Homo sapiens: one gene and its partners. The protein of the gene in region 4 purifies or fractionates together with the protein of the main gene of each other region. This does not show direct contact. Each region holds a gene or a part of one and is shown on either strand. Other genes may lie near its edges.

The links.
Region 1: the proteins of SLC43A1 (region 4) and MYO6 purify together in Homo sapiens (affinity purification with mass spectrometry; one large-scale study listed by BioGRID and IntAct). This does not show direct contact.
Region 2: the proteins of SLC43A1 (region 4) and ATP11C purify together in Homo sapiens (affinity purification with mass spectrometry; one large-scale study listed by BioGRID and IntAct). This does not show direct contact.
Region 3: the proteins of SLC43A1 (region 4) and DPY19L1 purify together in Homo sapiens (affinity purification with mass spectrometry; one large-scale study listed by BioGRID and IntAct). This does not show direct contact.

What each region holds. Positions count from the first base shown.
Region 1 is NC_000006.12:75,916,638-75,920,037, forward strand, and holds the end of MYO6 (unconventional myosin-VI), read left to right. Parts: 3' UTR 1-2,900; downstream 2,901-3,400. UniProt on the Homo sapiens protein: Myosins are actin-based motor molecules with ATPase activity. Unconventional myosins serve in intracellular movements. Myosin 6 is a reverse-direction motor protein that moves towards the minus-end of actin filaments.
Region 2 is NC_000023.11:139,730,554-139,734,053, forward strand, and holds part of ATP11C (phospholipid-transporting ATPase IG), read right to left. Parts: intron 1,973-3,500; coding exon of another isoform or gene 1,883-1,972; exon of another isoform or gene 1,882-1,882; intron 1,203-1,881; coding exon 1,101-1,202; 3' UTR 1,098-1,100; intron 1-1,097. UniProt on the Homo sapiens protein: Catalytic component of a P4-ATPase flippase complex which catalyzes the hydrolysis of ATP coupled to the transport of aminophospholipids, phosphatidylserines (PS) and phosphatidylethanolamines (PE), from the outer to the inner leaflet of the plasma membrane.
Region 3 is NC_000007.14:35,030,986-35,034,485, forward strand, and holds part of DPY19L1 (protein C-mannosyl-transferase DPY19L1), read right to left. Parts: intron 1-3,500. UniProt on the Homo sapiens protein: C-mannosyltransferase that mediates the C-mannosylation tryptophan residues on target proteins.
Region 4 is NC_000011.10:57,512,903-57,516,980, reverse strand, and holds the start of SLC43A1 (large neutral amino acids transporter small subunit 3), read left to right. Parts: upstream 1-1,278; 5' UTR 1,279-1,537; intron 1,538-1,779; exon of another isoform or gene 1,780-1,846; coding exon of another isoform or gene 1,847-1,881; intron 1,882-2,071; exon of another isoform or gene 2,072-2,200; intron 2,201-2,856; coding exon of another isoform or gene 2,857-2,869; coding exon 2,870-3,023; intron 3,024-4,078. UniProt on the Homo sapiens protein: Uniport that mediates the transport of neutral amino acids such as L-leucine, L-isoleucine, L-valine, and L-phenylalanine. The transport activity is sodium ions-independent, electroneutral and mediated by a facilitated diffusion.

The sequences.
Region 1 (3,400 bases), on a different chromosome or scaffold from region 4:
TATTTGTGTAGGATAGTGAATGATAAGCTTTTTTCCTAACCAGTAGTGAGTAAAGTTCTTGAACAAAATTTAGTAGCCAAATTGTTTTTTAATGACATGTCTCTTTAGTACAATAGTTTTGTGTATCTTTTAGATACATTAATAGGCACTAGATGGAAAATTAAAGAGTTAAACATATTTAAATGAGAGAATCTAATGTTTCAGAAATTTGTAAGAAATGTATCACAGCAAAGGGTTGTTATAAGTCCTTAGTTTTTGACTCTAATAGTTAATACAATTATAGTTAATCTTAAGCCATAATGTTTCTAATCATGTCACACAGCTGTCCTAGAACTTATCTATTTAAAATAGTTTCCTGAGTTAATTTTGGCCAGCAGGGCAACTGCCCTAATTCAGATAGATTTACAGTAACCTACGTACAGTAGATGCACATACACACAGACACCCCTTTGCTGGAGAAACTTAGGACCCTGTCAGCCTTTTAAAGGAAACAGCAGGAGTGGTGTCCTAAATGATGTTCATGCAGCTGCTTTACCATGTTCACAGTCAAGCCCATGCATGCCAGGTTAAAACTGTGGAAATCAAAAGTAAATTCACTCATATTTTAATCATTTTAACTGAGATTTAAAATTAGAAGTTTAAACCACTATATATAAAGAACTAATCTTTTCTTAATACCAGTTCTTTCCATAGCATATGCTTTGCAAAGGCAGCATGCATAAAATATTTAAAATGAGAGGACAGAATGTTTTCACATTTGATTCAATTTTAATATAATTCCTAATTGTGGTAACACAGTTGAGATATGTATTATGAGTTATGGGAACTAATTGAGAAAAGGAAGTTACTCTAATCCACGTATGTTAAGAGAATATTGAGTTTTCTTAGTTGTAAAGTTGGGGAGATGGCACCTTCTCAGAGGATTGTGAAAATATGAGGAAGAAACAAAACAGTGCATGTAGGAGCACAGGGCCACACAAAGGCATTCTATTGTTATGCTCATTCTGCTTCTGTAATGACTTTTCATAGGTCATTCTTGTGAACCATTTTGTTTTGCAAGCAACCAAGGAAAGAACATCTTAAGTGGAAAATCAGTGGTGGTTGTGAACACTTAGAGAATAGCAATCCACAGGCAAGAATAATGGTATTGTTTGTAGAGCTTTATTAATTGGATATTTTTTAAAAGACATTTTCATTCACAGGTCATTACTATGGTTCTCAGCGATCCAAATATGTAGATCATTGGTTTTTTTTTTTACCTGAAGTAGCTTAAGAGTACTTGGATCAGTAGAATAAATATTTATTGAATCAATCAGTCAGCCAATTAATATGATGTTAGTGATAGACCTGCCTCCTTTTATGGAAGAGGTAACAGATCCAGAGAGGTCAAGTAATTTAGTTGTAGACTGAAAAATATATCAAAGCCTTTGCTGCAATCATATGTAACAAAAAGAACCAAAACAAACACTTTTTAGTGGCACCTGTGGATTTACAAAGGGTTGCCTCTCTGTCATTCCACAACTTCAGAAGGTGTGACAGGTTTTCCCTATTTATCATTACCAATAATAACAAGTATTGAGAGTTTTAAAATTTCTCCCAGAAGATAAACTAACAAGGATGGAAGGGGAGGGCAAAGGATATCTAAACATGAGAATAAGGACATGTTAGAGGGGGGGAAACAGTTGTAACAATAAGGAAAGAGAAGAGCAACAGTGGAAGAGACAGGTTGTGTGCCCCTAAAGATTCTGCACCCCCAGTTTGGAAACACTGATACATTTTAGGACACAGAGCACTCCTAGATCTCTACGAAATTTTAGAATGAATAATGTGTAATTTATAGGATCAGAACGTATGGTTATTAAAACTTGGATCAAGATATGCCCGGTGTATACATTCTTAGCACATAGGAATGGCACTGCCATACTGGAGAAGGTCAGCAGTAAATAGGCATTCTGTACATAAGCCTCATGGAAGGGTAAGATGGAGAGACTGGCAGAAGTAGCACCTACTCTGCTGGGAGCACTTCTCTGAGTACGCTTTAGTTCAATTCAAATCACTGTATTCTTTCCCCATTGCTAACCTAATATATGAAACAAGCTTAGCTGTCTCAGAAGTTTTTCAAGAGATGATCAGGAAAAATTAATGCACATTCAAAAGGAGAATCTTCAGTACAAATTTGTTTTTTTAAAAATAGATTTAGGGCTGGGCGCGGTGGCTCACGCCTGTAATCCCAGCACTTTGGGAGGCCGAGGCGGGTGGATCACGAGGTCAAGACTTCGAGACCAGCCTGGCCAACATGGTGAAACCCTGTCTCTACTAAAAATACAAAACATTAGCCAGGCGTGGTAGTGGGTGCCTGTAATCCCTGCTACTTGGGAGGCTGAGGCAGGAGAATCACTTGAACGCGGGAGGCAGAGGTTGCAGGGAGCCGAGATGGCGCCATTGCACTCCATCCTGGGCAACAAGAGCGAAATTCCATCTCAAAAAATAAAATAGATTTAGGGGGTACAAGTGCAGTTTTGTTACATGGGTATATTGCATAGTGGTAAAATGTGGGCTTTTAGTGTACCTAACACCCAGAGAAGCATACATTGTGCCCAGTAGGTAATTTTTCATCCCTAAACCTTTTCTCAGCCTCCCACTTTCTGGAGTCTCCAATGTCGGTTATTCCACTCTTTATGTCCATATCTACACATTCAATCCTAATTTGTACCAAGTAGCATCTCACCTTTAAATCACAGGCTTATTAGTTGGGTGTTTTCTTTTTACTTATGAAAATTCATCTAGTCAAACTGTCAATTAATTTTTCCTCATTTCATTAAAAGTGTATATCTAATGCTTTCTCTAAAAATTGATGTACTGGAAATACAAATAAATAAATGCTCCCTGTGTAGAATTTCCACTTGCATCTTGTGCTTTTAATACCATTACAGGGTGTCATGAACAGGTTGTAAATGTTGCACTTATTGCCGTGTTTCAGATGGAATAAGTTGGCGAATTCTGGGCTCCTGAAGCTTGATCCAGTCGCTAGGGCTGGAAGCACTGTGTTAGGTGGCTGCAGGAAGAAGCAAGGAACTCAAGGTGATTGAAACTTCTTTGGACATAGGCCCCAAATTTCCTATGTGATCTCCATCCAGGAAACAGGCAGGATTCTGTGTGAGTGACAGCTACTCATTTTGTAGAGATTAGAGACACACCAAATTTTGGCTGCCTTTCTCCAGACCGTTACTAATCTGTGAGAAGACACAGGATGTAAAAACTGGGGACCAAAAGAAGGCTCCTTCTCCCTAAGGCCTTGAATATAGCTGGTCCATTCCCTGTGTCAAGAACCTACCATGATCCTGCTGGGTCCTCTGAGAGTGGAAGGAGACTCTGTCCATCTCACCTCATCAGCTCTTCC
Region 2 (3,500 bases), on a different chromosome or scaffold from region 4:
CCATTAATTTAACTTGTATTCTTTGCTAGAGGGTGGCAGAGTTGACAGCTGTTGAAAAAAATGGGCCTATAAGGTGGACTCGCAATTATTAGCTTCAAAGTGAACTAACCCACAATTGTATTCATGATGATCATTAATTTTTATGTGTGCATGAAAGATGGCCCTGCTTTAAGCTGTGTAGAGTTGTTTCCAAGCTGACAAGCTTGGAAGCCTTGTTCATTAATTACTCTAAATTCCTATGGATGGATAAAAGACCTCCAGAGGTCTGAGTTGTTAAAGGCCCCCACTGAAGGAAATACAGACTATACATAAAGGAGTCATTCTGAGTTCAAGGGGCCCTCCCACGGCGTATCAATTCCTCCCAAATATTTTTGGGGGTAAATGAAACATTATAAAGTGAATTTAATCATTTTTGGAAACATTAATTATAAAGCATTTTATATCATTAGGCAAGCATCCCCCTGAATGGCTATGAAATATTTTACCTCTGAAAGTTGAAACATTTAGCTTGAATAAAACTTGACATTAAAAAAGTTATGATTAGACTGGTTCATTGATATATATTTGGAGATCAGACATTTACAAGGACATAAGTGTATACAGTACCTGCAAACACACAGACACAGCACATGAAGGTACAAACACATTTAGTTATTTTCACATAATTCCCAAGAGAACATGCAATGCTAAATTGGCTTGATATTATACAGATGCAATTTTGGAATATTTACTTTTAGTTTTCCAAATGATCTTTATAAATCAAAGTTATATTTCCTGATCAATATTAACAAACATTTTCACATGGTGGCCTTGCCATGACAACTTGCCCCTTACAAATTAAATATGCTGTATCAACATTTGGCTCTGAAAAATGTTTAACATTTTATTTGGGGGGCTTATCATATTTTAATGTTTAATATTTTAAATGCATATTTCCCCATATTCCAAGTAATGCATCTTTATATTTTTGCAAAGAATATTGTAAAGTTCACCACACCAACAGCAGAGAAAATTTAGAGAGTGATATTTTCATTTTTTCTTTATAATGCTGTTAATCCGATTTTTTAAAGCCAGCCCATTTGTTTAACACTAGGTACCTGTTACAATACATTAGATTCGTCTGAGAATGTTCGTAAAAGAAGAGGTCTGACTGAAGGTCTGGCGGATAATGAGTCAGATGCCCTTCTACAGCTCAGATTTCTCTGTAATAGTGAGGCAAAGATACTTAAAGCATTTGAAAATTGGTTAACCTACCTGGTGATTATATATTTAAAAAAAGGTAAAAGAAAAAAATCATTTCCTATAGACTACTCCTCTGGCCAAAAGTACAAATGATTACACTATATAGTAAATGTATAACATTCAAATGAATACATTCAAAGGCCTAAGAAAGTCTCCAACTCGAATTGTTTTTGTGGTAGAAGTAAACAGACAACAGTAGTATGTAGTAAACTTGGGTTTTTGGAATGGCACTGGTAAGTAATATGGTAAGATGAGTCAATATGGTTTGATTAGTAAACCTTACCATCCTTTTGGTGAACACCTCTGAGAGTTGTGCCGGTGCCGTATTATCAAACAAAGAGAAATTTGTGCAAAACATTCCTGTCCTGGTGAACAGACTAGCTCTAACACGCCATGGCCACTGCATACCGTGGATCAATGAAGACTACAGACCCGTAGTCCAAGCTTTTAAAAATTACTTCCTCTCCAGTGTGACAATTTGGAAGGTGAACACATGATTAAAAGAAAATGACAAAATACTCTAAGCATCAATAGAAGATATAAAATGAGTCATGAGAAGTAATTTTTCATAAAGAATTAGAAAATGGTGTCAGGCAAATGAGAATGCAAGCAAGTTGGTACATTAAGAAAGGAAATCACCTTATTCACTCCAAGAGAAACTGTGATTGCTGGAAGTTTGAGAAAGCATGAAGATAGCAGATGTTCCTGAGGAAGGGAGGCGTTTCGTTACCTTGTTCACAATTGCACAAAAGGTGGAAAATTGCAGTAGAAAAAAGAGAAATGCAGAAACCAAAAAAAAAAAAAAAGTAAATAATCTCTCAAATGTAAGACATTTAAAAAGAAAACTTGAGAATTCGAAGCCGAAATGATATGTTAGTTTTGAAGACATTATTTTCTGAAGTAAAAGCAGAGTCAGAGATAGGAATAGTCTATTATTACGTGCCAACTACTATTTCTCTACATATCAATTTGAAATTATTTTGTTAATGGGAAAATTGACTATTTTAAATAAAATAGCTTTAAAATATGCTTCTCGTTAAAATAAGACTTATCTCTAATCATTAATTCACTATCCTACATTTGTTCAAAATCCATTGGTCAAAGAGTTATGTCCAGGGTCCATTGCCAATCACCAATCTATCTTGAAGTAATTATCTCCCCTATGCAACTGTACAGATACACTATGAAGGGACTGACTGCTCTTAAGCAGTTGCAGGATAAAAACTTAATCAAAAATAACAATGGGAAAACATTTGGTGATACCACATTTCAGTCCCATTTGCCTCTGACCAATGCTTAACTTCCTTTCTTACAACCTAATTTGATTGGTTTCCCTGTTTTTCCTACAGAGTCCTCTTTAGAAAGATAGGCTAAATTTTACCTGGGTAAGGTATTATTTTTTTTCCCCTTAAAACACCCAGAAAAGTGAAAATGGATAAAGTTTAACTGGCAAACCTAAGGTTATTTTTTTCCTTCTGATTCTGTGCCTGAAATTATAAGGTAATTTACAGACTCAGTTTTGGCATTGCCCAAGCAAAACAGAAGATGAGTGGTCAACAATGTGGATGACTTGAACAACTCTGCTAATAAAGATTACCCATATTGTCTACTTAGTGACCTAAAATGGGCTTAGAAAAAGAAACCAGCTAAAGTAACATTTGTTTCCAGAAGATTCTAATAAACAATTAAACTTTCAAAGGTAAATAATTTATTCATGTTTTGACAACTACATTTTTTCTTGTTTTTACCTTAAATGAAGAAAGTTGGTGGAATGAAGAAAGTTGATAGACATATTGATAGAATGCAAATTACCAATTGATAAAGCTAGAGAATATTTAGATTCTGAGAAAAAGATTTTAATTGTTTCTATCTTCTATTTTATGGGCAAAAACCCTGCGACAAGATCAGCATGATACCAAGTTCCCCACCCCCGTGTTTAATGCACAAACCTATCTATTCAAGACTGCAACTGTAAGCACGTTTTGGTGTGCTCAAACACTTGTATCCAACCATCGGAGATAAAAGTATTTCTATGAAGCAGAAATATTAGGAGTTAATAGATTAGGTGTTAAAACTACTTTATAAAGGAAATGAAAGTACAGAAAGCAGGAGAAAGCATGGAAAGAGTAACTAAAGCAATAAAAAAATTGATATAGCTAGCAACCGGCAGTGGGGTGGGGTAAACAGGAGATAATGAGCTAAAACAGAATGAAATTTCCACATTCCTTTGCAGTCATCTAGAGAGCTTTGACACCAGC
Region 3 (3,500 bases), on a different chromosome or scaffold from region 4:
CTTCCCCTGGAAGAGTAATGTCTCAATGGTTTGGCTGAAGTACAAGCTGATGGCAAAAGAACTAGCAAAACAGGAATTTAGGATTAAACATATGAATAATAAAGCCTAAAGCTACCCCATTTGGAACTATGTACACAGGTTTATGGTCTCTATGACAATGTAGATTTAGTCAGTCCTCCATATCTGTCAGTTCCACATCTGCAGATTCAACCAACCTCAGATTGAAAATAGTAGGCGGAAAAAAAATCCATCTGTACTGAACACATGCAGATATTATTCCCTAAACAATACAGTGTAACAAATATATAAGTAACATTTACATTCTATTAGGTATTCTAAGTAATCTAGGCATGATTTAAAGTATCCAGGAGTATGTGTGTATGTTATAGGCTAATACTATGCCATTTTATACTAGGGACTTGAGAATCTGCAGATTTTGATATCGGAGGGAGGTCCTTGAACCAATCCCTCGGGGTTACTAAGTAACAACTTGCCTCATTAGCATGAACTTTAAGAAACATTAATATACCTAACACACTCATTAAGAGAAATTAATACAGCCTAATAGGATAAGTATTTACAATGCATAACAGCCACGGTTCAAATATTAGCAACATCCAAATACCCATATGTACATAAATAAAACTGTATGTGCTTTCAGTATTGATGCCATATTATTGGCCAAAAATCAATCACAAATAGATAACATATGCTTATATTTACATAAACTAAACTTATCAAATTTGTTATTTGGATGCTAATGAGCATCACATATTCAGAAAACTTCTAACTGTATCTGTTAATAATAAAATATGTTTAGGTGATTATAAACATTCTTTAGAGTTAGCCAGAAGTCTATCTTAGAAAGAAAAAAAAATGGCTGTAAACATTAAAGAAATTCTTTAAAATCCCAAATTCCCATTGGCATAACCTCTATGAATTAACATAAACACACTCTCACAGCTGGTGCTCAGTTGGGTCTATGTGTCTGTTTGAAAGCAAGCACACCAAGATGGCCTGTGTCCCTGTGCCTCATGCTTCCTTAGCTTTTCTTGGCCCTTATGCCACCCCTAATATGCTCTTTCTACTTGTTGTTCCTGTATCTCTAAGTATGACCCTCTTTTCCTTCTTTTTCCTGGGGAAGGAAGAAACAAGAAAACTAACATTTATTGAGCACAAAATGTTAGGGTTTCTCAGAATTGGACTCTAGGGTTTCATTTCTTTTGCTGTACTGTCCCCTTAGAGGAGATGAAATATAGCATACTAGTTAAGAGCATGAACTTAGGAAACACATTGCCTGGGTCAAATCCTGGCCCTTCTACATTCTAGGGGTGACCTTGGACAAGTTACTTAATATCTTTGTGCCTCAGATTCCCCCCACGTGGTAAAACAAGCACAGTAATCATAGTGTCATGGTGAGGACTGAGTAAACAGTTAAATGAGTTCATCTAAAGCACTTCCAACAAAGCCTGGCAAAGAGTAAGCCCCCTATCAGTATAAGATGCTATTGTTCCCCTAAGTATGGAAATAGAAGTTCAATGGGAATACAAATTCAATTACCATTAATGTGAAAACCACCTATTTGCTGATGACTCCCTGTAGTACATCTCCACTCAGACCTTTTCTCTCATATCCCACCACTGATTGGCATTTCTACTTGGACATCTCACAAATGTCCCAAAAGTAACATGTCCAAGACGAAATTCTTGACCTTTTCCTTCAAACCCATTCCCTCATCCATACCCCTAGTCTTCACTATCTTGGTGAATGCCAGCATTATTTACCCAATTAGAGAAGCCAAAAATGTACAAAGTATTCATAACTCCTTCCTTTCCCTCAATCCAAGCCCAATTCATAAGTCCTATCATTTTCACCTCCAAAATACAACTCAAATTGACCAATTTCTCTCCATCTCCACAGCCACCGCCTTCATCTAGGCCAGCAACCCTCTTGCTAGGTCCGTGAACAGCCTCCTCATGGGTCTCTCCACTTTTGTCCTTGTAGTGCAACCACCCATTTTCCCAAGAGCAGATTTCTCAAAGTAAAAATTTAATCATGTCACTCTCCTCCTGTTGAGCATTCCTCAATGGCTTCCTGTTGCACTGAGAATAAAACCCAAGCTCCTTTTCAAGATCTGGCCCATGCCCATCTCACTTTGATGCACCTCCACCCTCTCTTCTTTCAACATGCTAAGCTCTGTCATACTCTTCTGTTCGGCTGACATCTTTTCTTTCTATCGGTCTCAGCTTCAAGGCTACCTCCCCAGAGACCTTTCCTGACCCTACTTAAAGAGGGTATTTCCTTTTTTTTCTATCTCAGCTTGTTTCTTTCCTGCAGTGCACTCATTCACAATGTGCAATTATTTTCATTTATTTACCATCCCCCCTTCCAGAATGTAAGTTCCATGAAGGTAGGGGTGACAGAGTCTCATTCTACATTTTACCCCACCAACTAGCATCTGGCTTAGTAGACGCTCAATGATATGGTATGACTGACTATGAATGAACTTACTGTGCTATTTTACATGTATTATCTCATTTATTTTTTACCATAATCAGACAAAGCATTTATTATTCCCATTTTAAGGGTGAGAAATATTAAAGGAGTGTAGAACAGCTCGAATGCAGAAACAGGATTCAAATGCAGGCCAGTGTTGATATGGCTATGCTGCTTCTACCACACCACATTGCTCCCCCCATCTAGTCCCCAACAGCTAGATTCAACTCTCTGCCTCCACCCAGTTTCTGACCACTTCTGCCTCTAAGAAGTCGCAAGTGTTTCCTACCATATGGGCTTCAAGGTTCTCGTAAGCTGTAGAGAATAAAAGCTGTGGTCCCAAATGACACAATTTTGCCTCCCAGGGTACAATGGCCAAAATCTGGAGACATTTTCGTTGTCACTACTGGGGAGATACCAGTGGCATCTAGTAGGTGGAGGCCAAGGATGCTGCTAAAATCCTGCAGTGCACAGGAAAGCCCCCTCAACAAAAAAATTATCCCACCCAAAATGCCACAATGCTGAGGTTGCAAAGCCTTGTCAATAAGGAACCAGGTTATAGCAGGTGTACCCTTGCCATTGACCACAGGAACCAGGTGGGCAATGGGAATGAGTCAAACAGGATTAATGCAAAGGGGGGAAAAGGTAGTTTTTATCATCCACTTTTCCCATACTCAGGTTCTTGTTTTATTGTTGTGTATATAGTATCTCATGTTAGTCTTTCACCACAGACATGCTTTGTTTGCATGTCTAATGGGTGTATCTTTTACTACCACAATTGTTTCCATGACGGAGCACTGGCATACATAAATAGACCAACAGACATATAGACTTATGCATATATGTACTGAGTTGCATTGTGGAAGTGTGAACAGGTTTAATATAAAATGTATTGTTACAATGTCAGCTGTGGTCAAAAAAGTTTGGGAAACATTGTCAAGGTTCTTACTATGTCACAGCCACCTCTGCATGAGGAAGCTATCAGGTTGAAACTTCTAAAAATA
Region 4 (4,078 bases):
TGGCTTGGTGGCTCATCTGTTCAGGGGTTCCCTTTTATCTGAGGCCTTCTTGGAGCTTTCTGTAGTCATTCTTGTTTTGTTTTTGAGACAGAGTCTTACTCTGTCACCCAGGCTGGAGTGTAGTGGCATGATCTTGGCTCACTGCAGCCTCCATCTCTCCAGCTCAGTGATCCTCCCACTTCAGCCTGCTGGGTAGCTGAGACTGCAGGTGCACACCACCATGCCTGGCTATTTTTTTTTCTTTTTTGTAGAGACGGGGTTTCACCATGTTGTCCAGGTTGGTCTCGAACTCCTGAGCTCAAGCGATCCTCCTGCCTTGGCCTCCCAAAGTTCTGGGATTACAGGCATGAACCACCACACCTGGCCACCAGTATCACTCTTTTTTTAAAAAAATTTTATTTTTATTTTAAGTTCTGGGGTACATGTGCAGAATGTGCAGGTTTGTTACGTAGGTAAATGTATGCCGTGGTGGTTTATTGCACCTATCAACCCATCACCTAGGTATTAAGCTCAGCATGCATTAGCAGCACTCTTAACACACAATTAAACTCACATGTAATGAGATTACTTCTCATTACTCCACACCATAGTAGTCTATTTTACAGATGAGGATACTGAGGCTCAGGGAGGCTGAGAGATTTACCTGGAGTCAATCAATTGTTGATCTGGAAGCATCCGATCACCAGGTCTTCTGAAATAATGACAGCAGCAACAATTAACATTATGCTTACTATGCCAAATGCTATGCTTAGCATTTTACCTGCATCACAATCGCGATTCCTTTGGGCAGTTAGGTAGGTTCCATTTTAACCGAATTTAAAGAGGAGGAAGCTGAGGCTCAGAGAGGTAACTTGCCCTAGGTAACCCAGGGTAGTCAGTTAAAAAGTCAAGACTCAGACCTCGATCTGACTAACTCCAAAGAAACCCGTGCCACTCTGCCTCTCGGAAAACACTGCTTCCAGCTGCACAGTTCAAAACCCCACCCAAGGCGGCCCTGAATCGCGGTCAGTCGGCTTCAGCCGAATCGCACTTTGTTTTGAACAAGGATACAGAGGGCGCTGCCTGATGTTAGTCTGGGGGCTTGGGGGAGAAGATGGGGGTCCAGGGTGGAAATGTAGGTGCTGGGGCTGTGCCAGAGGGAGAGTGTCCGGGACCAGCGGGCGAGTCACGTGCGCGTGAAACTCGACCTAAGGGGAGGGGAAAAGAAGGGAGCCCCCGCCCCCACCTCGGGGCGCAGCTCCGGACGCGTGTAAATACAACTATCAACTCCGCAGATCCACTTCATCCAAGCCCAGCTTCGCAGACCTCTGGCGCCCGGCGGGTTCCCAGTTCCCCCGCTTCTTCCGAGGAGACAGCGGAGGCGAGGCCACCGGGCTGTCAGGCTGAAGCTCCGTGGCCGCCGGGTCCTGCACGCAGAGAAGACCCCAGCGCCGGCGCGGCTCAGGGCTGGGCCCACGGGACTCCGGACGCGCCGCGAAAGCGTTGCGCTCCCGGAGGCGTCCGCAGCTGCTGGCTGCTCATTTGCCGGTGACCGGAGGTGAGCAGCGTGGGCGGGGAGGGGGCGCGCGTAGGGTCTCCGGCTATGCGTCGGCTGAGAGACACCGAGGCCGGCTCCCGCCGACACTGCCAGGCTTCCCAAGGAAAGACCGTTACTTGCGCCCGCGGTCCCGCGGCACAGTGTCCCATCTCGCCAAGCGCGTCCTTCCCTTTTCTTTTCTCTGACCCCTCCGACTCTTCTCTTCCTCCCGGGTCCCCGCTCGCTGCACTTCCTCTGCTTAGAGCTGCGCGTTTGCCAGAGTTCCAGCGGACCTCCTGGAGCGCTTGAACCCAAAGCCCCGTTTCACAGATGAGAATACCGAGTCCCCCTGGAAGAAGTGACTGGTACTTCCTCCCCTCTCTCTGGGTCTTTCTTGCCCTTCTCCTCTCCGCTTTCCTCGGTCTCATCCCAGTTGTCGCTCCCCGCCCCCGCGCCGCCCGCGTTCCCTCTCCTCCCGCCGAGGCTGCAGCGGCCGCGGCGGGGGGAGCTGGGGCTCTTTCCCTCCCTTTGGTAAACACACCCGCCCGCCAGCCCATCCGCCACCGCTGCCCTTATAAAGTCAGCAGCCGCCAGACTTCCTGCCGAAGTCCGAGCCCCCTCCCGGGGCTGGAGGGGGGCAAGCGGGTTCCGAGGTGCAAAGCCTGGTGCCCCGAGCCCTGCGGAGTGAGTGAGGGGCGCGCGGGGGAGGAGGGAACCGAGGAGAGCCCGTCCTGGGTCTCCCTCCACGTGGCAGCTGTTGGCTTGGCCCGAGAGACTGTAGGGTCGTGGGTCACCTGATACGGAAAGGGGGAGGGCTTGCTGTCGCCCGGCCCCAGAGGGAAGGAGAGGTCTTGGAGGGGCAACTGGAAGATGGGGTCGTAGGGTAGCCTTGAACTTGCCCTTCTTCCTGCCAGCTTCTAGGGGTCTTTCCTGGCGCGAGAGTCCGGACATGGGCCCGCGGTGCTTCAGAGCGCGCTCTGCCCCTTGCTGTCCTCTGGGGACCTGGGCAGATGCGGACTTTCTCCCCAGCAGCCCGGCCCTGAGCGCCCTGGCCTGGGTGAGAGAACCCGGCAGCCTGCTAGGAAGCTGCAGCGCGCAGACAGGACCTTCCTTGTTTCCGATAGTGGCTCAGCGGGAGCCCCGTGCCGCGTGCACCTCTGGCACTGCTAGTGCGCGCGGAGCCAGCTCCTTGGCACCGGCTGGGAAGCCCAGGGCTCTATGGGGCCTCCATGAGGGGCTCCTCGCGGGCTGGCCCGAGAGGTCTCGGGTGCCACCATGATGCAGGACCCTTCCCTGGGGCCACTGGGGGGCCCTTCACCCAGCGCTCTGTTTCTGTGCAGGCTCGGGGCCAGCATGGCCCCCACGCTGCAACAGGCGTACCGGAGGCGCTGGTGGATGGCCTGCACGGCTGTGCTGGAGAACCTCTTCTTCTCTGCTGTACTCCTGGGCTGGGGCTCCCTGTTGATCATTCTGAAGAACGAGGGCTTCTATTCCAGCACGTGCCCAGGTATGCCTGAAAATGGGCTGGGTGGGCTGGGGGGAGGGATGGCAAAGGGGCAGGTGGAAGCCAGAAAAGGTTAGGTGGCCAGGTGGACAGAAAGCAGGGTCAGCAGTTGGACAGCCTCACTTCTCGACCTCTTCAAACTTCAGGGGGAGATTGGGTGGCACTCTGCCCACTGTTTCATTTATCTAATCCAGTGGTCACTGAATGCCAGGTGTCCTGCTGGTCATCCAGACCCTGGGACTAATAGGCAGAGTCCTAAGCCTCTGACAGCCTCAGGTCTAGAGCTCTTTGAAGGAGACGTGCTGGGAGAGGAATTTCTTAATAGGGCTATCATAAGACAAGGGAGAGCTGCACAAAGTGGAGTATGAATATAAAGGGCCCCACATCCTTCCCTTTTCAGGAGCTGGGAGCCCCCAGGTTTTCAAATTACTCATTTGGACAAAGTTACATAGCCTCATTTACTCTAGGAGGGCATTGTGGAGAGTCTCTGGTTTCCACTTCAATCACCTTGTGTGAGTGGCCCCGAAGCTGGGAGTGGGAATTCTAACACTCTTTGGGAGCAGTAACTACAGCCATAGGCTGTCTGCAGCTGCCTTGGGGCAGGGAGTTACCACTGCTGGTGTCTAGGACTTGCCTCTGATGGGTATCTTCCTATTCTGGGAAGGAGAGAGCTGTGCTGACAAGCTCCGCCTCAGGAGCTGGGTGGAAATGGAATTGGGCTCCCCTCTCTTTTTATCCCCTTTCCCCAACCTCTGTGTTGTGGAGTAAGCTTGGAAGGAAGTTTAGCTTGGATTTGAATCCCAGCTTCCATCACTTTTATCAGTTGGTGACTTCGGTGAGTTCCTTAAACATTGAGCTTCAGTTGCCTGGTCTTCAGAATGGGGATAATAATATCGATTCCGTGGGAGTGCTGTGAGAGTCTGCAGTGCTTAATAAATGTTAGTGTCCTTCTCGTTGCTCCTGGCTTCTCGTTTCAACTCCTTCCTGCACAGCACCTGATGTGGCTATGGAAGAAAACCGATTCCTTGAGGGGTGGAGATGGGGAGGTCTTGATCACT